Regions from separate parts of the Homo sapiens genome. Here regions 1 and 2 are each linked to region 3. The links come from fine-mapping of genetic effects on gene expression. A gene starts in region 3. Each other region holds a variant in brackets. All regions are shown on one strand. Distances are between the middles of the regions.

Region 1 (8,186 bases), 97 kb after region 3:
CATATTAGGAAATGGGAATTTTTAAAAATCATTTATTAGTATATGTAAAATGGTACTCTTCTAATATTCATATATTAAATATGAGCCCTCTAGTAAAACATAGAGTCATCTTTGGAAATGAAAAAGGGTTAAACATTAAAAGTAAACACTAAGACAAAAGAGAAGAACTAGATTAAAATAAACAATAAATTTATCTCAGAAAGCAATTTAAGTTTGAGGTAAAAGAATAAAGGAAAGAACTGGTGAACAGCCAAACAAATATAAGGTTATTTAAAAGAATTATGAAGAAATTCTACCTTATTTGTTGTATAGCTATCCCAAATAATTAATTTTCCATCTTGAGAAGCACTGACTAGCAGCCTAGAGGAACAAACACAAAAATAATTTGACACTTAGAGGGAAAAAATAGCTTAAATTGGTTATGCATTGCATTAATGTAGAATAATTCAGAAAAATACAATTTTTCCAACTAAAAACTTGATACCAAAAAATGTTCTTCCAACTTTTAAAAAATTTATGCTGCATGCCAAAAATCTTGAACATATTTCATAAAATAAAATTTAGCAACTGACTAAAAATGTCTGGCTATGATTAAACATTTTTGTGGTAACAACATCTTAGTTATACAAGATTTGGGTGGATATTAGCTGACTGGTTTAGTACTTACTGACTTACTTAAATTTCATGACAAGAATGTACATAGAAGCCTAACAACCATATTTCATCCAATCTAAAAACACCAATTGAGAGCCTGAGAATATGACAATACTAGAGGTACAACGCAGGATACATCGCCTGCTCTTGAGGCCTCTACCATCTGGTGAAGATAAGACATTTACTCATATTTATATTAAATCAAGTAAGTAAAAACTGTCAGAAGAGGGGTATAAAATAAATGCCACAGGAGAGTAAAGGAGGAACAATGGCTAGATGAGTTAATCACAAGAGAATGAGTCTTGAAAGAAAATGTTGAGAGCTAAAGATACAGAAAAGGCTGTATTTTAGGAGAAAGCTATGTAAGATCAATGACAGGTAGAAAAATACACTGAGTGTTGTTTCAGGAATTGTGGGTCTTCCAGTAGTACAGTTTGTGAGAAAATGGAAAAATAAGTTGAGAAAAGCAGACTGGGCTTAAACTGCAGAAAGCTTTGTTAAACTAAAGAGTATGAACTCCTAAGTAATTTTAGCCACTAAATTTTTTGTTTTGTTTGGATTTTTTTTTTTTTTTTGAGACAGACACTCACTGTGACACCCAGGTTAGAGTGCAATGGCACGATCTCAGCCCACTGCAACCTCCGCCTCTCAGGTTCAAGTGATTCTCCTGCCTCAGCCTCCCGAATAGCTGGCATAACAGGTGTGCACCACCACGACTGGTAAGATGGGATCTCAACATGTTGGTCAGGCTGGTCTTGAACTCTTGACCTCAAGTGATCCACTCGCTTGGCCTCCCAAAGTTCTGGGATTACAGGCATGAGCCACCATGCCCAGCCTTGTTTGGAATTTTTACTTTTCACCATGGTGTAAAATTCAAAAAATAAAAAAGGATATACAGAAGAAAATTTAAAAAGCACCTTCCTGGGCCTATCATCAGCCACCCAGTTCCTTTCCCTAGAGGTAAATAACATTATCAGATTCTTGGGTAGCAATCACTACAAGGTTTTACAAAAGGGAAGATCTATCTGATAGTGGGGTATAGGATGGCATCTAAAGAAAATTCTTTAGAAATCAATTGGCATCATCAGCATAAGAGTTGAGGAGAACATTAAGTAATGGATTGATAACACGGATGGGTGGGAAGACTATGTGAGATAGGTTCCTGGATGATGGTTTCATTTTTCTATGAAGATTAACAGTCTTCAGAAAACGTTTAAGGAAAGCAAGAACCATAAACATTGTTTCAAGTTACTATATTTTAAGTTAAAATTTTGCTTTATCAACAGGTAAATTATTTTTATCTTCAACTCCTTTAAGAAAAAGAATAAGACATTCGGCCAGGCGCGGTGGCTCACACCTGATTAATCCCAGCACTTTGGGAGGCTGAGGCGGTTGGATCACCTGAGGTCAGGAGTTCAAGACCAGGCTGGCTAACATGGTGAAACCCCCTCTCTACTAAAAATACAAAAATTAGTCAGGCGTGGTTGTGGATGTCTGTAATCCCAGCTACTTGGGAGGCTGAAGCAGGAAAATCCCTTGAACCTGGGAGGCAGAGGTTGCAGTGAGCCGATACCACACCATTGTACTCCAGCCTGGGCAACAAGAGTGAAACTCTGTCTCAAAAAAAAAAAAAAAAAAGAAAAAAGAAAAGAAAAAGAAAAAGATTAAGACATTATGTCAGTTGCCAATTATATAATTTTATGTATCCCTTCGTAAGAGGCACATGTTCTATATTATTGTGGTCAAGTATCCCAATTAGAGCAACAATTGAGGCTTCTTCTACTTTATAATTTTAGTGTCTCCTGGGAGAAGAGAATAAATGTGCAACTTCTATTAAAACATAGAAGTTTCTTGGTTTAGGCATTTCCCATTAAGATTAACCAAATCAAAGGAACAAGTAAACCACTGTGATAGCAGACACATCTGCTATTGCCAGACAATGGAAAAACATAGGCTGTGCTGTAGCCTTATACACATAGTGAATGACAGTGATGAGCAATCTATCTAACTGTAGGCCACGTAGCAGCTGTGCGTGTGCCTGTGCACCTGCAGATGGTCAGCTTGCACATTCAAGCACACACCTTTCTGTGATGCAGTCGAGGGAGTAAAAGATGTATTCAGTACAAACACCTTTGTTTCATGTAATTTCCATTATTTGCGAATTTATGTAATAACAAACTATAGCAATATCCAAAAACTTGCACATAGGTGTTCAATACGTATTTGCTTATGAACTGAAATTTCAAGCTTCATATACAGTAAAAACGCTTTGTGCCTATTTAAAAAACAAAGAATGTCTGCAATGTTCCACTGCAAAGAAAAGGAATCCTCTTCTGAACAGTTGTCCTGGATTCCATATTAAAAATGTTTATACTTTTAAAGAGTCAATTAATATTCTTATTGAAAGCAGCATGTTCATCTGAGATGCATTTTCTGCAAACGCTTCATGAATATATTCTGTTTTTAAACAAAGAAAATGCAAATGATGGTTCTTAATGAAAATAATTCTGCAACAGTTTAAAAATGACAGGTAATGACAGGTACAAACCTGGAATCGTATCCCCAATGCATAGCATAGATTTTAGCTAGGTGGCCCCTCAGTGTACGTCTTGTTCGCATTTGTATTCGACCCAC[A/G]GAGTCCATATTTGATGTAATCTTTTGAAAGCAACAAAAATGTTATTCTTTACCTTAATCATAGTTCATGAGATAACTTGAACTAGAAACAGTGAGGAGTTAAAAAAGCAAACATAAAGTACATTTATAGTAACTGAAGGTAATTTAATGTATATAATTCCACAGAGCCGTTATGGGATCAATATGTTCCTGAAAATTATGATTAGTTTAAAATAATCCTATGTGCTGTTATAAATAATATACATAAATGTATAATAAGAATGCCTTCTGCAGACTATTAACTAAAAAGAATAGATATACCTCTATGCTTTAGTAAAAAACCAGCCACAAATAAAAATCTAGAGGCAAATGATCACAGTAAACATTTACAATTTTAACTGTAAGAAAGCCAATTTTATATTTGTAGAGCACATAAAATACTTCCTTAATAATAATGATCAATATTAATTAAACATGAAGCCTTCCCAAGATTTTTTAAAAATATTAGTCTTCTTGACCCCTCTTACTATCTCATTCCCAACCTAAGAGTTTTCATAAGGAAAAAAACACTTAATCAGGGTATACCAAAAAGAATCAGAAACTATTTAAAAAGAAGCATAAACTATATGAATCTATACATACATATATATATACATACATAAATATATATAATTTTTTTTTTTTCGAGACAGAGTCTCACTTTGTCTCCTGGGCTGGAATGCAGTAGGGATCTCGGCTCATTGCAATATCTGCCTCCCAGGTTCAAGCGATTATCCTGCCTCAGCCTACCAAGTAGCTGGGATTACAGGCAGGCACCACCATGACCAGCTAACTTTCATGTTTTTTTTTTTTTTCTAGTAGAGACAGGGTTTCACCATGTTGGCCAGGCTGGCCTCAAACTCTTGACCTCAAGTGATCCTCCCACCTCGGCCTCCCAAAGTACTGGGATTACAGACATGAGCCACCATGCTTGGCCTTGAAAATATATATACATATATATATATATATTTTTTTTTGAGACGGCGTCTCACTCTTCTCGCCCAGGCTGGAGTACAATGGTGCGATCTCAGCTCACTGCAACCTCTGCCTCCTGGGTTCAAGTAATTCTCCTGCCTCAACCTCCCGACTAGCTGGGATTATGCCCAGCTAATTTTTTTTATTTTTAGTAGAGATGAGGTTTTACCATGTTGGTATAGCTGGTATATTTTTATAGCATTTATTTTTCCATAGATGTCTATTTTAACAATATATTTTAAAAAGCACTCGCACTGTATAGCATTTGACAAATTACGAAGTGCTTTTACACAGAGATTTCATTTAACTTTTTTCAATTAAGCACTAATACAAGAATCTGAATGTCATTTGCCTCTATGTCAAATTATTTTATGAGTTACCAAAATGAAATAAAGAAAAACAAAACTTTACCTGAACAAGCGTTGCATCATTACATGCTTTCCGAGCATCCTGAAGTAAAAAAATATGATTATAATGCATTTAGCAACCTGTGGAATGACTAAAGTGATACTTTTATTGAAAACGTAGATTTGTGAATTTACTTCTCACTGTACCACATCTTTAAAAATTTTTTTAATTGATATAAAAATCACATAACCTAAATCAAACCATTTTAACCATTTTAAGGCATGTAATCCAGTAGTTTTTAGTATCACAATGTTGTGTGACCATCACCACTAATTACAGAACATTTACATCACCCCAAAAAAGAAACCCCATATCTCCTAATTCCTTTTTCTCTCACAGCCCTTAACAGTCACTAATTTACTTTCTTTCTCTATGGATTTGCCTCTTCTGAACAAAATTTGAGAGATGTCAATAAAAATTTGAGAGACCTCAAATTTTTATACAAACTGAAAAGGATTATCAAAAGGAAGACGGTGAAGCAGAAATTAACAAAAAATTAAAGACTGCAAAGAACATATTTAATAAAAAAAGTTTTACACCAAACATCAGTTTTTTTCAAATTTATCAGTTAACAAATTTAGAGGATTTATATACATAGAAAAATAAGAAATGAAATTAAATCCTTCCTGCTAGGCTTAAACTTTTTTCCACAAAGGTTATAGTAGTATCCTCTTCAATTTTGTTTTTTCTATACAGTGTTTAAGTACTTGCATAGTCCTGGGCAAGGAGAACGCACAAGATGTTTGCTGAATAAATGTCCCAAATGGACAACTTGTTCCAGTCAGCCGAGGGAAAAATGCCTGCTTCAGCTCCCAGCAAACACTGGATGGCAGACATGATCTTTCTGGCTGCCCTTTCAACCTATTTATAACCACTCAGAATATTTCTAAGTAAGGGTGTTCACAAGTAGTTGCACTAAACATGTGATTTGATTATTTCATTCTTAGCCAAATTGTGGGTTTAAAGACCTCATCTGGTAAGGAATAATGTAGCCCACTTTCCTATAATGAAGAGTTTCCAGAAATGACAGTGATGGGCCTGAACCATGTTCCAAAAATGGTAGAGTTAAAGACCAAATTCTTAAAAAAGGTTCTTTGACTTCAAGCTTTATGAAAATGAACCATCATTGTTTAGACTATCTTTTTTAATTTAGTTAGTTGTTAAAAAAACTGGGTTGAACACTATGTGTCAGGCACTATTCTAGGCACCAATAGGCGTCAAAAATCTCTGCCCTCATTGAGCTTACATTAATATTAGTAACACAATTTAAAAATTGCAAATGGAAATTATTGAACTACGCTGAAAATTGGTAACAAAAATTAAAATATTATGTTGGAATACAAGAATTCTACAAATATGTTAGCAGCAGTTATGTGCAAAATTACATTATGCAAAGATTCTATTTACACTGAGAACTCTCTCTTATGAACACTATTATCCATTATAAAACAGAATATAAGGCCAGGCGTGATGGCTCATGCCTATAATCCCAGCACTTTGGGAGGCCGAGGAGGAAGGATCGCTCGAGCCCAGGAGTTTTAGATAAGCCTGGGCAAAACAGTGAGACCCTGTCTCTGGAAAAAAAAAAAGCAAAACAAAACAAAAAAAAGAACAGAATATAAAAAATATTCCCAATTAAAGGCTGAATTCCATACTGTCCAGCACCACAAGAAATAAAAAATCTGGTAAGATATTTGTGCAAAAGAAAGATGATACATACTTTTTTGCAAATCAAAGACATAACAATTACACAAGAAAACAAAATCTATTTTCTCTATTTGCATTTTTTAAAATTTAAAACAAATCATCTATTATAATACATAGCATACATTTCTATTATATCATGTATTTACACTATAGTAAGGTAAAAATATAGTTAGATTATATTTCCAGATGGGAGGAGGAAGGAAGGAAAGATTTTTTTTGAGACAGAGTCTTGCTCTGTCGCCCAGGCTGGAGTGCACTGGCGCCATCTTGGCTCACTGCAAGCTCTGCCTCTCAGGTTCATGCCATTCTCCTGCCTCAGCCTCCCGAGTAGCTGGGACTATAGGTACCCACCACCACGCCCAGCTTTTTTTTGTATTTTTAGTAGAGATGGGGTTTCACCATGTTAGCCAGGATGGTTTCGATCTCCTGACCTCGTGATCCACCCGCCTCAGCCTCCCAAAGTGCTGGGATTACAGGTGTGAGCCACCGTGCCCAGCCAGAAAGATTTTTAAATATAGTGTGACAATTAAACTAAGAAAAGTACATAGTATTTTACATATATGTGGTTACTTCAAATCATGGGAGGAGATGATTTGGTGAGCACCTGCGCCCACGACATTGTGCTTGGGATGCTAGTGAGATACGGAGATGATTAAGACACAAAATTATCCATCTAGGTACAAACAGTAGGGGCAAATATGCACAAGAACTACAACACAAGGCAGACCGTGATCAGCTCTATAACAGAAGTCCAACATGCTGTACAAGTAAAAATCTGCCACTTGCTGGCAGCAGACTAAGTCCTCTATGTGTTATTTCACTTAATCCTCTGCAGAAACATATAAAGTGGGGTACTGGTACTCTTGCTTCACAGCAAAGATACTGATCATCAATGAAGTTAAGAAACTTGACTGGGCGTGGTGGCTTACGCCTGTAATCCCAGCACTTTGGGAGGCCGAGGCAGGTGGATCATGAGGTCAAGCGATCAAGACCACCCTGGCCAACATGGTGAAACCCCGTGTCTACTAAAAATACAAAATTAGCTGGGCGTGGTGGTGTGTGCCTATAGACCCAGCTTCTCAGGACGCTGAGGCAGGAGAATCACTTGAACCTGGGAGGCAGAGGTTGCAGTGAGAAGAGATCGCACCACTGCACTCCAGCCTGGGCGACTGAGACTCCGTCTCACTCTGATTTAAAAAAAAAAAAAAGATAAATCCAAGTGGAGGGCTCTTGGAGGATTAGGACTCAACAGATAGGATTTCCAAAGAGCAAAATTGGCTCAGAAGTCGTATAATTCCAGGCCAAGGGAACAATTTGATAAAAGGTAACAGATGAGAAAGAGTAATGCGTGTTCAGGGAACCAAACTAGTATGGCTACAGCACAAGTCGCAGGAAAGGAGATGAGAAAGAGTAATGCGTGTTCAGGGAACCAGACTAGTATGGCTACAGCACAAGTCGCAGGAAAGGACATTAGTAACTAAGGTTGGGAGAACCAACTTTAAGTTATAGCAGAACACACCTGGTCTGAATCCTGGATCTGTTACCTTGGCAACTTATTTAATCTCACTGAGCCTCAGCTTCCTCAACTATTAAATGAAGTAACACCATCGACTTCACAGAGTCGGTGTGAGGATTAAATGAGATAGGCATGTGGCCACATGGTTTAGCCAATCAGCTGCTCCTGCTCAGCATCTGGAGTAAGTGACACAAAGTAGAGAGGGCAGAAATTCCTTCTAGTGGGTGCAGTAACATCGAATTCAGAGATGAGTCTGCGAAGCCTTCTGTGATTA
Region 2 (8,186 bases), 58 kb after region 3:
TTTCAATTTAATTTTTTTGAATAATTGATAATCTTGTTTAATTATTTTAACTCCAAAATTTTCATATTTTCAGGTTTCATGTGCAATGACAGATGAAATTTGTCGACTGTCTGTTTTGGTTGATGAATTTTGTTCAGAGTTTCATCCTAATCCAGATGTATTAAAAATATATAAAAGTGTAAGTTAAAGTATAGATAAAATTATTCAGAGACAGTTTCTTATTATTCTATACCCTCATTTATTTCATGGTTTGGCATTTCAGTGTATCAGTACAAAATGAAACTGTTAGATCTCTTGTGCCCTCTTGTAATAAATGTAAACTGTCTTGTATAAAAAGTAAATAGAAAATTTATACTTAGAATGAGATAAAGATCATTTTAGGACGAGGCACAGTGGCTCATGCCTGTAATCTCAACACTTTGGGAGGCCGAGGTGGGAGGATCAGTTGGGCCCCAGAGTTCGAGACCAGCCTGGGCAACACAGTGAGAACTCTAATCTACAAAAAACAGTTAGGCTGGTTGCGGTGGCTCCCGCCTTTAATCCCAGCACTTTGGGAGGCTGAGGCGGACGGATCACGAGGTCAGGAGTTCGAGACCAGCCTGACCAACATGGTGAAACCCTGTCTACTAAAAATACAAAAAAAAAATTAGCCGGTGGCAGGCGCCTGTAATACCAGCTACTCTGGAGGCTGAGGCGGGAGAATCGCTTGAAACCGGAAGGCAGAAGTGGCAGTGAGCCAAGATCACACCACTGCACTCCAACCTGGGCAACAAGAGCAAAACTCTATCTCAAAAAAAATAAAAAATAGCCAAGCATGGCGACACGCTTCTATAGTCCCAGTTACTCAGGAGTCTGAGGCAGGAGGATCGCGTGAGCCTAGGAGGTCAAGGCTACAGTGAGTCAAGATCAAAGCACTCCAGCCTAGGCAACAAAGCAAGACCCTGTCTCAAAAAAAAAAAAAAAGTCAAATTAAAAAGACCATTTTGGCATTTACTGAATATTTTATGTCTTTATAAAAACTACATACTTTCTGGAGAAAAAATAATATGGATATTTACCATTGTTAACAGGAATTAAATAAGCACATAGAGGATGGTATGGGAAGAAATTTGGCTGATCGATGCACCGATGAAGTAAACGCCTTAGTGCTTCAGACCCAGCAAGAAATTATTGGTAATATTTATGTCTACAAGGTCATGTCTGGTTTGTTTTTTCATTCATGACTGGTGAAGAGCTTATTTTCCTTTAGGCATTCCATTGAAGGTAAAACATTTACCATTCTTATCTTAAGTGTTGTAATTTTGTTCTTTCTAGAAAATTTGAAGCCATTACTTCCAGCTGGTATACAGGATAAACTACATACACTGATCCCTTGCAAGAAATTTGATCTCAGTTATAATCTAAATTACCACAAGTTATGTTCAGATTTTCAAGAGGATATTGTATTTCGTTTTTCCCTGGGCTGGTCTTCCCTTGTACATCGATTTTTGGGCCCTAGAAATGCTCAAAGGGTGCTCCTAGGATTATCAGAGCCTATCTTTCAGGTATGTATCTTTGAATCTACCAATTAAGACTCTCCTTTATTATTTTGTTTATGTGGTTTTTCTATAATAAAACTAGCTTTACAAAATCTGCACATTTAAAAGCTAGTATCTATCTCTTAGAGCCATTTCTGAGGTAGATATTTAGTTTGAGCATCTCCAATCTGAAAATCCTTAAAGGTCCAAAATGAAAAACTTTTTGAGTACGGTGACACCACAGGTGGAAAATTCCACACCAGACCTCAATGAGGTCATAGTAAAAACGCAGGCACACAACACACAGTTTATTCAGTGTCCTCAAGGGAAAAAAGACTCAGCCTCTTCTAGCTGCAATATATCTTTTCCACGTATGCCCAAATTCCCCCACACAAGCACACCTATGAAGGGTACTAAAATGGCACATGTGCAGGTCCAGTGCACCAACAGCATTTTCCCCATGATGCCCCACAAGGGGCCAAGACCTTTGTGCATTACCCAGTATGGGCTTCTTTACTTCCTGTCTTTTCTCTGGTGTAAAGATACTGTTTAAAAAAAATTTTTTTTTGAGTGGGGATGCGTTTGAGACAGAGACCTGCGCTGTGGCTCAGGCTGGAGTGCAGTGGTGCAATCTTGGCTCACTGCAACCTCCACCTCCCGGGTTCATGCGATTCTCCTGCCTCAGCCTCCTGAGCAGCTGGGATTATACGCACCCACCACCACACCCAGCTAATTTTTGTATTTTTAGTAGACATGGGGTTTCACCGTGTTGGCCAGACTGGTCTCGAACTCCTGACCTCAAGTGATCCACCTGCCTCAGCCTCCCAAAGTGTTGGGATTACAGGCGTGAGCCACAGCACCCAGGCTGTTTAAAATGTTTAAAAGGCCTACAGATACCCTTGTGGGTGACATTGATAAGAAAAAGAAGAGGCATTTATTTTTATTTATAACACATAAATTTAAGCTGTTGGAAAAACTGGACAATAATGTAAGTGAGAAACTTCTTACAGAAGAATGATGTTGGAATGAACACCATATATGACCTAAAAGAAAGAACAACTTTCCTAAAGTTGTTCTTTAGGACTAAACTGTTGAAGTTCCATGCTAAAAATGATGACAGAAGTTAATGAAAAAAACAAAAACACTGCAGAAAGTTAAAAACGAAGATCTTGATCATGCATTGAAAGAGTGGATCCATCAGCATTGCAGTGAACACGTGCCACTTAAGGACATGCTGATCATGAAATAAACATCTATTAAAATGAACTGAAAATCGAAGGGAACTGTGAGTATTCAATAGGCTGGTTAGAGAAATTTAAGGTAAGATAGCATTAACTTTTCTAAAGGTTTGTGGTGTTAAAGCATCTTGATCACAAAACAGCAGAGAAATTCATTGATGAATTTGCCAAGATTGTCTCTGATGAAAATCTGACTCCAGAACAAGTCTATAATGCTGATGAAACATCACTGTTTTGCCATTATTGACCCAGAAAGACACTGACTACAGCTGAGGAGACAGCCCCTACAAGAATAAAGGATGCAAAGAACAGAATAACTGTGCTGGGATGTGCTAATGCAGCAGGCATAAATGTGAACTTACTGTGATAGGCAAAAGCTTGCATCCTCACTGTTTTCAAGGAATGCATTTTTTTTACTAGTCCATTATTGTACTAACAAAAAGGCATGGATCCCTAGGGACATCTTTTCTGATTGGTTTCACAAACATTTTATACCAGCTTGTGTGCACTTGCAGGGAAGCTAGGCCGGATGATGACTGCAAGATTTTGTTATTCCTTGACAACTATTCTGCTCATCGTCTAGCTGAAATTCTTATTAAAAAAAGTGTTTCATTATTTCAACCTTGTGACCAGGGTATTCTACGATCAATGAAGAGTAAATACAAAAACCTTTTTTGGGCAGCATGCTAGCAGCAGTGAACTGAGGCCTGGGTGTGGAAGGTTTTCAGAAGGAGTTTAGAATGAAAGATGCCATAGATGCTTTTGCCAGCACAAGGAGTTTAGGATGAAGGATGCCATATATGCCAGCACTTGGAAGACAGTGACTCAGTTGTGTATGCCTGCAGCCTCTGCCTGTCACTACATTTATTGATGATGAGGAGCAAATTGGTGACTTTGAAGTATGTCAAGTGAGCTCCTTATGCAAAAAATAATATCTTCAGAGTCCATCCGTAAGCTGGAAGAAGGATATATCAAAGAAGTGTTTGACATTGATAATGAGGTTTCAGTTGTTCATTCATTAACTGATGGCAAAATAGCTAAAATGCTTCTAAATCAAGGTGATTATGATAATGGTGATAATGAAGATGATTTCATTGACCTCGCAGAACAACTGCCTATAGGCAGCATGGTGATGGGCTTATTGAAGCACTAGAGCAGCATGTATTCATAACAGAACAAGAAATAGGTTTATAAAATCAAGGAGAGACTTCAACAAAAACCATTGTTAAAGAGGCAAGTAGGTGGTACTGCAGGAAACATTTTAAAAGGCCATTCAGCACAATGTCTTATTATGCCGAGAGGACCCACTTCTTGGTCCCTCAACTGCTTCTGATGTTTCTTCTCACCTAACAAAGTACTGTGTACCGGAACTTTTTAATCAAAACATAACATTGTAGGTAGAGACTGAAAGCCTGCCATTGTTGCTGTTTAACAGCTGATACAGGTGTTCTGGTGATGCCACTGTGCTGCTTAGTTTGAATACGTTATTTTTCACTGTTATTAATGGTGTGTCTTATATTTTTACTATTAAGTTCCTTTGTGTGAATCCGTGTAAGAAAATGATTGCTTGTCAGTAGTATGTAAATTCAATCAAGAATGATGGTGATGCCAAACAACCATAGAGTGTTCACATGGGTGGCTGACATAGCAACACCTGTGTTTTCTGATAAGTCAGTGTACACAACCTTTGTTTCATGCACAAAATTATTTAAATATTGGATAAAATTACCTTCAGGCTATGCATATAAGGTATATGAAGCATAAATGAATTTTGTGTTTGGACTTGGGTCCCATCCTCAAGATAGCTCATTATATCTATGAAATATTCAAAAATCCTAAAAAATCTGAAATCTGAAACACTTCTGGTCCCAAGCATTTTGGATAAGGGACACTCAACCTGTAGTATGCTTAAGGGAAAGCTTATCCTAAAGCTTTCGTCCAATACTGTTGCAGGTGGTGCTACATTCATTTTTGAAACATTTCTGTTTTCTTAAAAGATTTGGTTTTCACATTTCAAATAAACTAGCATAAATACAAGCATTTTTTTA[A/AT]TTTTTTTTTATTATACTTTTAAGTTCTAGGGTACATGTACACAACGTGCAGGTTTGTTACATATGTATACATGTGCCATGTTAGTGTGCTGCACCCATTAACTCATCATTTACATTAGGTATATCTCCTAATGCTATCCCTCCTCCTTCCTCCCATCCCACAACAGGCCCCGGGGTGTGATGTTCCCCTTCCTGTGTCCAAGTGTTCTCATTGTTCAATTCCCACCTATGAGTGAGAACATGCAGTGTTTGGTTTTTTGTCCTTGCAATAGTTTGCTGAGAATGATGGTTTCCAGCTTCATCGATGTCCCTACAAAGGACATGAACTCATCATTTTTTATGGCTGCATAGTATTCCATGGTGTATATGTGCCACATTTTCTTAATCCAGTCTATCATTGTTGGACATTTGGGTTGGTTCCAAGTCTTTGCTATTATGAGTAGTGCTGCAGTAAACATATGTGTGCATGTGTCTTTATAGCACCATGATTTATATTCCTTTGGGTATATACCCAGTAATGGGATGGCTGGGTCAGATAGTATTTCTAGTTCTAGATCCCTGAGGAATCACCACACTGTCTTCCACAATGGTTGAACTAGTTTACAGTCCCACCAACAGTGTAAAAGTGTTCCTATTTCTCCACATCCTCTCCAGCACCTGTTGTTTCCTGACTTTGTAATGATTGCCATTCTAACTGGTGTGAGATGATATCTCATTGTGGTTTTGATTTGCATTTCTCTGATGGCCAGTGATGATGAACATTTTTTCACGTGTCTATTGGCTGCATAAATGTCTTCTTTTGAGAAGTGTCTGTTCATATCCTTCGCCCACTTTTTGATGGGGTTGTTTTTTTCTTGTAAATTTGTTTGAGTTCTCTGTAGATTCTCGATATTACCCCTTTGTCAGATGAGTAGATTGCAAAAATTTTCTCCCATTCTGTAGGTTGCCTGTTCACTCTGATGGTAGTTTCTTTTGCTGTGCAGAAGCTCTTTAGTTTAATGAGATCCCATTTGTCAATTTTGGCTTTTGTTGCCATTGCCTTTGGTGTTTTAGACATGAAGTCCTTGCCCATGCCTGTGTCCTGAATGATATTGCCTAGGTTTTCTTCTAGGGTTTTTATGGTTTTAGGTCTAACATTTAAGTCTTTAATGCATCTTGAATTAATTTTTGTATAAGGTGTAAGGAAGGGATCCAGTTTCAGCTTTGTACATATAGCTAGCCAGTTTTCCCAGCACCATTTGTTAAATAGGGAATCCTTTCCCCATTTCTTGTTTTTGTCAGGTTTGTCAAAGATCAGATAGTTGTAGATGTGTGGTATTATTTCTGAGGGCTCTGTTCTGTTCCATTGGTCTATATCTCTGTTTTGGTACCAGTACCATGCTGTTTTGGTTAGTGTTTGGTAGTGTAGTATAGTTTGAAGTCAGGTAGCGTGATGCCTCCAGCTTTGTTCTTTTGGCTTAGGATTGACTTGGCAATGCGGGCTCTTTTTTGGTTCCATATGAACTTTAAAGTAGTTTTTTTCCAATTCTGTGAAGAAAGTCATTGGTAGCTTGATGGGGATGGCATTGAATCTATAAATTACCTTGGGCAGTATGGCCATTTTCATGATATTGATTCCTCCTATCCATGAGCATGGAATGTTCTTCCATTTCACCCATTCACAATTGCTTCGAAGAGAGTAAAATACCTAGGAATCCAACTTACAAAGGATGTGAAGGACCTCTTCAAGGAGAACTACAAACCACTGCTCATCGAAATAAAAGAGAATACAAGCATTTTAAAAGAAAAACTTTAAAAAATTTATCAATTCAGTAATTTTTTAGGAAATTTGTGAAATTGTAAAACCATCACCACAATTTAGTTTTAGTTTTTGTCACCTCAAAGCTGTTTTACTCATTTGTAGTCAATTATGATTTCCACCTCCAGCCTCACCACTAATCTGCCTTCTGTTTATGGATTTGCCCTTTCTGGAGGTTTCCTATAAATGCAATCATATAGAATGTGGCCTTATATGACTGGTTTCTTTCACTTAGTATAATGTTTTCAAGGTTTATCATCATGGTATCAGTGTTGTAGGATGTATCAGTACTTCATTTCTTATTACGGCTGAGGAATATTCCATTATAGATACAACACTATCCATTCACCAGTTGATGGACATTAGGGTAGTTTGTAGTTTTTGGCCATTATGAATACTGCTATAAATATTCATGTACATGTTTTTTATGTGGACGTGCGTTTTCATTTCTCTTGAGTATATACGTAGGTTCTAATGGGTATAGAGTAGTATTCGTTGTAGGTTTGATTTGCATTTCCCTAATGACCAATGATTTTAAACATCTTTTTTGTGTGCTCACTAGCCATTTGTGTATCTTCTTTTGTGAAATGTCTATTCAAAGCTTTTACCTATTTTTAAATTATTTGGGTCCTATAGAGTTGCAGGATTTCTTTGCATATTCTGGATCAAATCCTTTCTCACATATATGATTTCCAAATATGTTTCTTTATTTTTTGAGACAAGGACTTGCTATGCCCAAGCTGGAGTATGGTGGTGTGATCACAGTTCACTGCCACCTCTGCTTCCAAGGAGCTGGGACCACAGGCATGTGCCACCACACCTAGCTAATTTAAAAGAAATTTTTGTAGACACAAGGTCTCACTGTGCTGTGCTGGCTGGTTTCAAACTCCTGGTCTCAAGCTATCCTCCTGCCATGGCCTCCCAGAGTGCTGGGACTACAGGCATAAGTCACTGCACCCAGCCCCAAATATATTTCTCTTGCCTGTGGCTGTGTGTTTTGAAGTTTAAGAGGTTTTTATTTTGAAGTCCTTTTTTTTTTTTTTTTTTTTTTTGAGACTGAGTTTCACTCTGTTGTCCAGACTGGAGTGCAGTGGTGCAATCTCGGCTCACTGCAAGCTCTGCCTCCTGGGTTCACGCCATTCTCCTGCCTCAGCCTCCCAAGTAGTTGGGACTACAGGCATCCACCACCTCGCTGGGCTAATTTTTTTTTTTTATGTATTTTTATTAGAGACAGGGTTTCACTGTGTTAGCCAGGATGGTCTCGATCTCCTGACCTCGAGATCCATCCACCTCGGCCTCCCAAAGTGCTGGGATTACAGGCGTGAGCCACCGCGCCCGGCCGAAGTCCTTTTTTTTTTTTTTAGTTTATCATTTTTTGTTGTTGTTTGTTTCAAGGATTGTGCTTTTGTTGTTAGTTTTTTTAAAAACACACTTTGTTCCTCTTGAGAGTTGAGGGCCTACTGTTACATTTAGACCCCATTGTATATTATGAAAATTTATTGTTCATGATATCATTGGTCCATATTGTAGATAAGAATTTCCAAATTATTTTTATTTTCTACATATATTTGTGGTGTACTCATCA
Region 3 (8,186 bases):
TCCCAAAGTGCTGAGATTACAGGTGTGAGCCACCATACCTGGCCTGTAGTGCTTTCAAAAAAGAAATGTATAAATTTAGTCCTTGTACCTGTGTAAGGGTGGCTTGGAATTTTGGAGCTCAGATGGCTCTGTTGAGTATGTGAGATGACTAACTTGAGACTTTTGCATGCAGCCACCTCATGCCTGAGTCAGAAGCGTGTCCCTTAGGTGTGCACTAGTGTTAGCTGACTAGGTAACCATGACAGAGTTTATCAATTCATTCGACAAACAGAATACCAAGCTAGGCCATGTGTCATGTGTTCCCATACCTGCACTATGTAAGTTTACTAATTACATTCCAGTGTTGTATAATTGCCCATATTCCCTACTCAACTGTAAGGACCAGGAGACCAATGACCATGTCTATCTTGCTCACACTGTATTGCCAGTATCTAGTACAGTGCTGAACACAAGGTAGATATGCAATGAATATTCTACTGAAAGAAATGAATGAGGCTGTATGCAAGATACTGTGCTAAGCAGGGAAATGGAGCAGATTGGAAGATAATAAAACTGGAACTTAGGGTCCGTGGAGAGACAACATGATGAACAGATGGAGCCAAATTTTGCAAGGGCAGACGCTTATGCAAACTGGGAAGATCAATTTGAGAAAAATAATATAAAATTTTAATACAGGCTGGGTGTGGTGGCTCATGCCTGTAATCCCAGCACTTTGCTGAGGCCGAAGTGGGTGGATCACTTGAGGTCAGGAGTTTGAGACCAGACTGGCCAACATGGTGAAATCTCGTCTCTACTAAAAATACAAAAATTAGCCAGGCATCGTGGTGCGCACCTGTAGTCCCAGCTACTTGGGAAGCTGAGTCACGAGAATCGCTTGAACCCAGAAGGAGGAGGTTGCAGAGAGCCGAGATCATACCACTGCACTTCAGCCTGGGCGATAGAGTGAGATTCTGTCTCAAAATAAATAATACAAAATTAAGCACGTGGTCCTGGAAGAGGTTCATGCAATTGAAGGGACTTGAAATTTAAGCTTCAGTAACTTCACAGTAACTCCATCTCTGGGGAGAAGTGGACAAATGTACTAACTACTGTGGAATCTCTAAAGATTGGTCAGAGATTTCGGCAAGGGAAAATCAAGGTTTCATAGAAGAGATCAACTGTGAGCTTCATCTTACAGAAACAAAGGAAACAAATTGCAGGTGGAAGAAACGTGCTAGATCACACAAGTGAGAAAAAGGCAGAGCGTATCTGTGGAATAGTGAGAAATACTATATGGTTAGTGTGGGGTTGGGTGAGGAAAGACTTAGGATAGTGGTTCTCCAGACGTGATCACAGGCCAGCAGCATGGACTTCGAAAGGAAATTTGTTAGAACTGCAGCTACTCAGGCCCTAGTCCAGATTTACCCAGTTCTCTTCATCCCATATCCCAAAATAAATTGTAGACAAACGAAAAAGTTAAAGCAAAAAATGCAACCAGATCCTGCATAGAAGAAAAGATTATCTCAGCAAAAGGCCAAAAATAGAACTTGCAAAGGAAAAGATTAATAGACTTGCTTTCACTACAATTTAAAATGTTTGCACCACTAACAAAATTAAAAAACAACAAACTGCAATTACGCCTGTAATCCCAGTACTTTCGGAGGCCGAGGTGGGCGGATCACCTGAGGTCAGGAGTTTGAGACCAGCCTGGCCAACATGGTGAAACCCGTCTCTACTAAAAATACAAAAATTAGCCCCGTGTGGTGCCACGCGCCTGTAATCCCAGCTACTCGGAGGATGAGGCAGGAGAATCGCTTGAATCTGGGAGGCGGAGGTTGCAGTGAGCCAAGATCACGTCATTGCACTCCAGCCTGGGCGAAAGAGCAAGACTCTGTCTCAAAAACACACAAACAAACAAACAAAAAACATAAAGAATGCTCGTGCTATACTAATTGGAAAAAAGAACCTGTTAGAAAAAAACACAGCCAATATTCTAATTTTGAAAACAAATTTTTATGTCAGTATAGGTATAAAAATAACGGAAAGATAGAAAGCAAAATGTTACCATTGATGAGCTCAGGGTTGTGAGATTATGGTAAATTTACTTTTGCTCTTTGTACTTTTCTGTTGTCTCCATTCTGTACTAAAAACGTAACTATTTTCTAATCAGGAAGAAATTAAGTGGCCGGGCGCGGTGACTCGCGCCTGTAATCCCAGCACTTTAGGAGGCCAAGGCGGGCGGATCACTTGATGCCAGAAGCTCAAGACCAGCCTGGCCAATATGGTGAAATCTCAGCACCACTAAATATACAAAAATTAGCCAGGTGTGGCAGCTCGCGCCTGTAATCTCAGCTAATCTGAAGGGTGGGGCACGAGAATTGCTTGAATTTAGGAGGTGGAGATTGCAGTGAGCCGATATCCCATCTCTGTACTGGAGCCTGGGCGACAGAGTGAGACCGTGAGAAAGAAAAAAGAAAAAAAAGAAAAGGAAGGAAGGAAAGGAAGGAGAAATTAAGCTATTCTACAAGTGTGTGAAAAAGTTGGAAGAACGATGTTTTAATAGCCCTGAATCAAATTTATAATAGTATTTAACAAACTCTACAATTTAGCACTCTTGAGATTTTAGGGTTTTATCCCAGCTATCACCCTCCCTTGGAGCGGGAGATGAGGAAAAGAGGGACCCAAAAATGAAACTGAAAAACACTCCAGCTAATCAAGAACTTGAAATTGCTTGCAATTTGTGACTATGTTAAACAACATCTAAACAAAGTCAAGCTCCTCTAAGTGCAAACAATACGTGGGATGCTGGGGAGAGTGTGCGTTTACTTTCACTACAAAATGTTTTGGAGTAAAACTTCATTTTGAAATATAAAGATTTTGTTGGACACAAGGCTATGTGGTAAGGCAAAATGGTAAGATGGTGGCATGACACCCCCTTGTGGTTTCCACCGATTCCCGGTTCTGTGCTAGATACTAACTATTCTAGGATTTAAAAATGTCTCTACATTTCTTCGAACTTTAATTCGGGCCATACTAGCATTCGTGAGCATTTATTTGAGCTGAGTACGCACATAAAACTTAGGAGGTCATAAAAACTGAGCCTCACAAACAAGTAGTGTCTCTTTCAAATATAGCTTTATCTCCTGGGGGATGGTGAAGGGATCAGAGTAAAGTCTGTGATTATTACTTTCCAGCGATTGATTGGTTGATTGGCATGTGGTTGTCAGAAAAAGCAGTGGACGTGAACAAAGAGACATCATTGCAGCCCTAACTATCCGAGTGACCTTGGGTACCTGATAATCCACATGGCTCTCAGTCATCCTCTTAACCGTTTGAACCTCAGGGGTTTAGGCTACCAAAATGAATTAAGACCCAGTCTTTAGCTTCTCACACATTTACTTTTCCATTTTGTAAAATGTGACTAAAAACCTCAACTCATTGTCAAAAGGACTGAATTAAACATATCACCACACTTGCACAGAGATCATTTATGGAACCATGTTCACAAATTTATTTATGCTCGTGTAATTTAATCATTTCTACAGCTGCTCAAAGAAAGTCAAAGTCGAGAAAGGACTTAAATCGTCGAGTCCAGTCCCCCTTAACTCCTCATTCATTCCACTATTTCTCGAGCCAAGGAATCGGGTGAAACTCAACAACGACTCGCAGTCTTCAGGTTTCACCCTCTTGCCCTGAGGGCAGCATCCTAGCCCTAGGTGGTTCTCTGGTGTGGCCTCAGTAAAACCGTGACGAGGTCCTCGGCCTCTCTGTCCCCAACAGGCGGCTGGCACACTTCGGGGTCTGAGATGCCATCTGCCTTGCCTAACCTGGGCAAGACCACTCGCGTCCTTTCCCTTGAGGAGCAGCGTGGGAAAGGTGCCGCTGCGCGCCACGTTTCTCCCAGTTCCCCAGGGCTTGAAGGGGCGGTGGAGGCGGGCGGGATAAATTCGCTGGCCGCCTGGCGTGGAGTAATCCTAGAGGGTGGGATCGCCCTCGGGGCTCGGGAGGGGCTCTTCCCCGCCCAGAAGGAGACTGCGGCGGCGCAAGGCCTCCGGCAGGGGGCGCGGGCCGCTGGGCCTCCCCCGGGGCTGCGGGCCGGTGGTCCCTCCCAGGCCGCGTGTGCGGTGCGTTCGCGCAGCCCGCTCCCTGCCCCCACCTCACCTCGTCACCTCCCCGCCCTCTCGGCGGGCCCCTGAGGTGCGCGGCGCAGGCGCGGAGCGTGGCGGCCAGGGCAGTGCGGCCGCGGAGCCTAGGCCAGGGGCCTGGCGCTCAGGGCGTGGGGCGCGCGGGGAGGGAGAGGGGTCGGCCCAGCACAGCGTCCGGGAGCGCTAGGGCCGGAGCAGCGCTGCCCGCCGCCGTGCGTCCGCGGGAAGGACCGCGCGGCCCCTCCGCCTGCGCTCTCGGCCGCCGCCGCCTCTGCGTGGGCCGGCCGGGAGGGCCTCGGGGGACTGACTGGTGAGTGTGAGGGAGGAGCGGGTGGGTCGGGCGCTGGACTGCTCCAGGGGACGCGGGCGTGCGGGCGCATCTTCTAACGGGAGAGGGCGGGAGAGACCGGAGCTCCCTTTATACGGAAACTCTGCCTTCGTTATATGGCGGGATGGCGTTCCCCTCCCCCATCCCGAAGGCAGTTCCACCCCCTGCGCAGGACGCCTTGGCCGGGCTCCCCTCGGCCCCCTGCTGCCGTTGTCTTTACGGAACCTTTGGTGTCGGGGCTTGGAAGTCTCCTTGGCGCCGGCTTCTGGGCCCGGGCGAAGCTGGTGCGTGGCGCCGGGGTGGAGGCGGCTAAGTCCCAGGGACTTCTGCCCTGCGCCTCCGACGGGCATTTGTCTGGCTGCGTCCGGGCTCGGGACGATCCTGGGTCCTCGCTGGCGCTGCGGCCCTGCCCGGCGGCTTCGTGACCTCCGGCGGCGAATCCCCGGGCTCGCGCAACGAGTTGTAGCCGCGGAGAGCAGGCGTCGATGCTGGCGCCCAAAGCCTCCAGCCTGAGAGTCGCCTCACTCGTGTGACGGTGCTTAGAAACCCCCTTTTTTGGTTTTGTCTTTAAGTACTGTCTAGGGAAACGAATCATTTGAAGCAGTTTATGCCTTTTTTGTTTTTTTCGAAGAGAAAGATTTATGCCGGACTGAAAAATAGCGAATCAAGTATTTAGTGACCGTGTGATATTGCAGTAAAGACTGCCTCCACGTTGGACATGTAGTGGATTCTAGTTCAGGCTCTCCTGCAACATGTTTTTGTTTCAATTCTTTTACAATTTAAAGCATATGCTTATTTTAATGAGAACGAAAAAGAAAGCTTAACTCTTTTTAAACTCGTTAAAAATGGAGTTATTTACTGTAAAGACGTCTTACAGCAATTAGGAAGAATATACATTGCATGAAAGGCCTTTTGAAACGTTTATCTATTTGATGATTGCTGACTGCCTGTTGTATGTATTCTATTTTGTGCATAGACTTTCTTGTTGGTTGAAAAAAATGACAGGTGGAAAGATGTTGGTTTCTAGGTGATATAAAAAATTTTTAAACATTTTTCTGATTTTTCTGCAGTGACACGTGTTACATATGTCGTTTGTATTTCAGAGGGAGGGGGGACTGTGATAGGTTGCTTGTGATTCAGAATCTTCCTGCTAAGAAGACTAGTGAGCAAATGTTTATGACATCCTTGAGTAGAAAGCTAAGTTTTTTCAAGGCTGTTATGCACACAAAAGGCACATAAAAATGATTGCTAAAATGAAGGATGGTTAGCATTTTTGGTCTTGAGTAGGCATCACCATTGTGCTGAAAGGAAGTCCGATAGACATTTGGTTATCGTTCGGCCCTAAGTAGGAGTCAGACCCTTCCTGATCCGTGTGCCTCCTCCTCTCACCTAACAGCCTGAATCCAGGCCAGCTTGCAACGTTGATTTTAATACCACGCTTGGTTTCCTTTTCTTACTTTTATTCTTCAAGTTGCAAAGAACTTGAGATGCATTCTGAAATAACAAGAGACTACTTAACATGTTCGGCTGAGTGTTTTCAGTGTTCTCCCTGATACTTTTAGAGTATTTAGAACATGAAGTGTGAAGCTTTGGGCTATATGAATCGTAATAGCTCTTCTCTTTTTGATTTTTGAATGCAGTGAATTGAGATGGTTACTCAAGGAATGATTGTTTACATTGTTAGGTGAGGCGTTTGATTTTATTCTTTTTTCTTTCTTTCTTTCTTTTTTAGACAGAGTTTCACTCCTGTTACCCAGGCTGGAGGACAATGATGTGATCTCGGGTCACCACAACCTCCGCCTCCCGGATTCAAGCGATTCTCATGCCTCAGCCTCCCGAGTAGCTCAGATTACAGGCATGTGCCACCACGCCCGGCTAATTTTGTATTTTCAGTCGAGACGGGGTTTCCCCATGTTGGTCAGGCTAGTCTTGAATTCCCGACCTCAGGTGATCTGTTCGCCTCGGCCTCCCAAAGTGCTGGGATTACAGGCGTGAACCACTGCACCCGGCGAGGTGAGGTATTTTATATATTGGTATCATTTCTGTACATTTCATGGTTGTCTGTTTCTTTAGGCTATTCTGTTCCCCTTCTCCCAACTGGTAGCTAAGAACTGGAAGCAAGATGTGCATGCATTTTCATCTCTGGTTCTCCCACTTATTAGTTGACTTAACTTTCACTAAGGCTGTTTCCACATCAGTAAAAATGTAAATGGGTTTGATAGTAACTCCTCCATGTACCGCACAGGACCATTTTGAAGATGAAATAGAATAAGGGTTAGGAAAATGCTTAATAAACTGAAAAGGCCGGGCGCGGTGGCTCACGCCTGTAATCCCAGCACCTTGGGAGGCCGAGGCGGGCAGATCACGAGGTCAGGAGATCGAGAACATCCTGGCTAACACGGTGAAACCCCGTCTGTACTAAAAATACAAAAAATTAGCCGGGCGCCTGTTGTCCCAGCTACTTGGGAGGCTGAGGCAGGAGAATGGCATGAACCCGGGAGGCGGAGCTTGCAGTGAGCCAAGATAGCGCCACTGCACTCCAGCCTGGGCGAAAGAGCGAGACTCTGTCCGAAAAAAAAGTAAAAATAAAATAAACTGAAAAAGCACTATCTCATTCCCTGCTGTATTATATCACTTCAGTGCTGATATACCCAGAACTTAGTGAAGCAGCAAAAATAGTATGTGCACCTCAGCTAGAACACCTGTCATGTGTATCACCTTGGTGTTAAGAGCATTATAGGCCGGGCGCGGTGCCTCGTGCCTGTAATCCCAGCACTTTGGGAGGCTGAGGTGGGCGGATCACTTGAGGTCAGGAGTTCAAGACCAGCCTGGCTAACATAGTAAACCCCCGTCTCTACTAAAAATACAAAAATTAGCTGGGTGTGCTGGCGGGTACCTGTAATCCCAGCCTCCTGCTGGCGGGCGCCCGTAATCCCGGCCACTCAGGAGGCTGAAGCAGGAGAATCGCTTGAGCTGGGGAGGCAGAGGTTGCAATGAGCCAAGATCGTGCCACTGCACTCCAGCCTGGGTGACAGAGCAAGACTCCGTTTCAAATAAATAAATAGATTAATAAATAAAGTTGGGTAAACCTTTATTCAAATCCCAACCCCAGCATTTACTGAGTATCTAGCTTTGACTTTACTGTGCCTCAGTTTCCTCAATAACAGGAACTATAATTTTGAGAGGGTGATGTGAATTTTGCATCTCATACGATTACATAGGATTAAATGAGATAAAGTATGTTCACAGCCTGGTACATAATTGGTGGTCAGTAAATTATTATTATCACTTTTACTTTTTTCTTTTTTTGTTTTGTTTTGATTTTTTGTTTTTGAGAGAGAGTCTTGCTCTGTTGCCCAGGCTGGAGTGCAGTGGCACGATGTCAGCTCACTGTAGCCCTCCGCCTCCCAGGTTCAAGCCATTCTCCTGCCTCAGCCTCTTGAGTAACTGGGATTGCAGGTGCGCACCATCACACCCGGCTGATTTTTGTATTTTTAGCAGAGACGGGATTTCACCATATTGGCCAGGCTGGTCTCGATCTTTTATTTCTTAAATAAATAATCTATAAGGGCTGTAACAGTTTAAAGTTTATAATTTGGGCCAGGCAAGGTGACTCACGCCTGTAATCCCAGCACTTTGGGAGGCCCAGGTGGGTGGATCACCTGAGGTCAGGAGTTTGAGACCAGCCTGGCCAACATGGTGAAACCCCGTCTCTGCTAAAAATAGAAAAATTA

The links.
Region 1: its variant is fine-mapped to the expression of ZNF639 in whole blood (TOPMed, PIP above 0.99).
Region 2: its variant is fine-mapped to the expression of ZNF639 in whole blood (INTERVAL, PIP above 0.99).

What each region holds. Positions count from the first base shown.
Region 1 is chr3:179,416,197-179,424,382 of GRCh38, forward strand. It overlaps GNB4 (G protein subunit beta 4), which reads right to left. Exons shown (of 10, transcript NM_021629.4): 3 at 4,693-4,731; 4 at 3,203-3,309; 5 at 297-360. Among named protein-coding and RNA genes, the nearest start is that of GNB4, 31 kb to the right of the region's middle. The variant A/G (reference allele first, on the strand shown) is at 3,289.
Region 2 is chr3:179,377,271-179,385,456 of GRCh38, forward strand. MFN1 (mitofusin 1) reads left to right here. Exons shown (of 18, transcript NM_033540.3): 12 at 74-178; 13 at 1,071-1,173; 14 at 1,315-1,544. Among named protein-coding and RNA genes, the nearest start is that of MFN1, 34 kb to the left of the region's middle. The variant A/AT (reference allele first, on the strand shown) is at 4,804.
Region 3 is chr3:179,318,858-179,327,043 of GRCh38, forward strand. It overlaps ZNF639 (zinc finger protein 639), which reads left to right and starts at 4,174. Exons shown (of 6, transcript NM_001303426.2): 1 at 4,174-4,434. RefSeq lists silencers at 3,904-4,343, 4,374-4,513 and enhancers at 5,084-5,133, 6,175-6,274.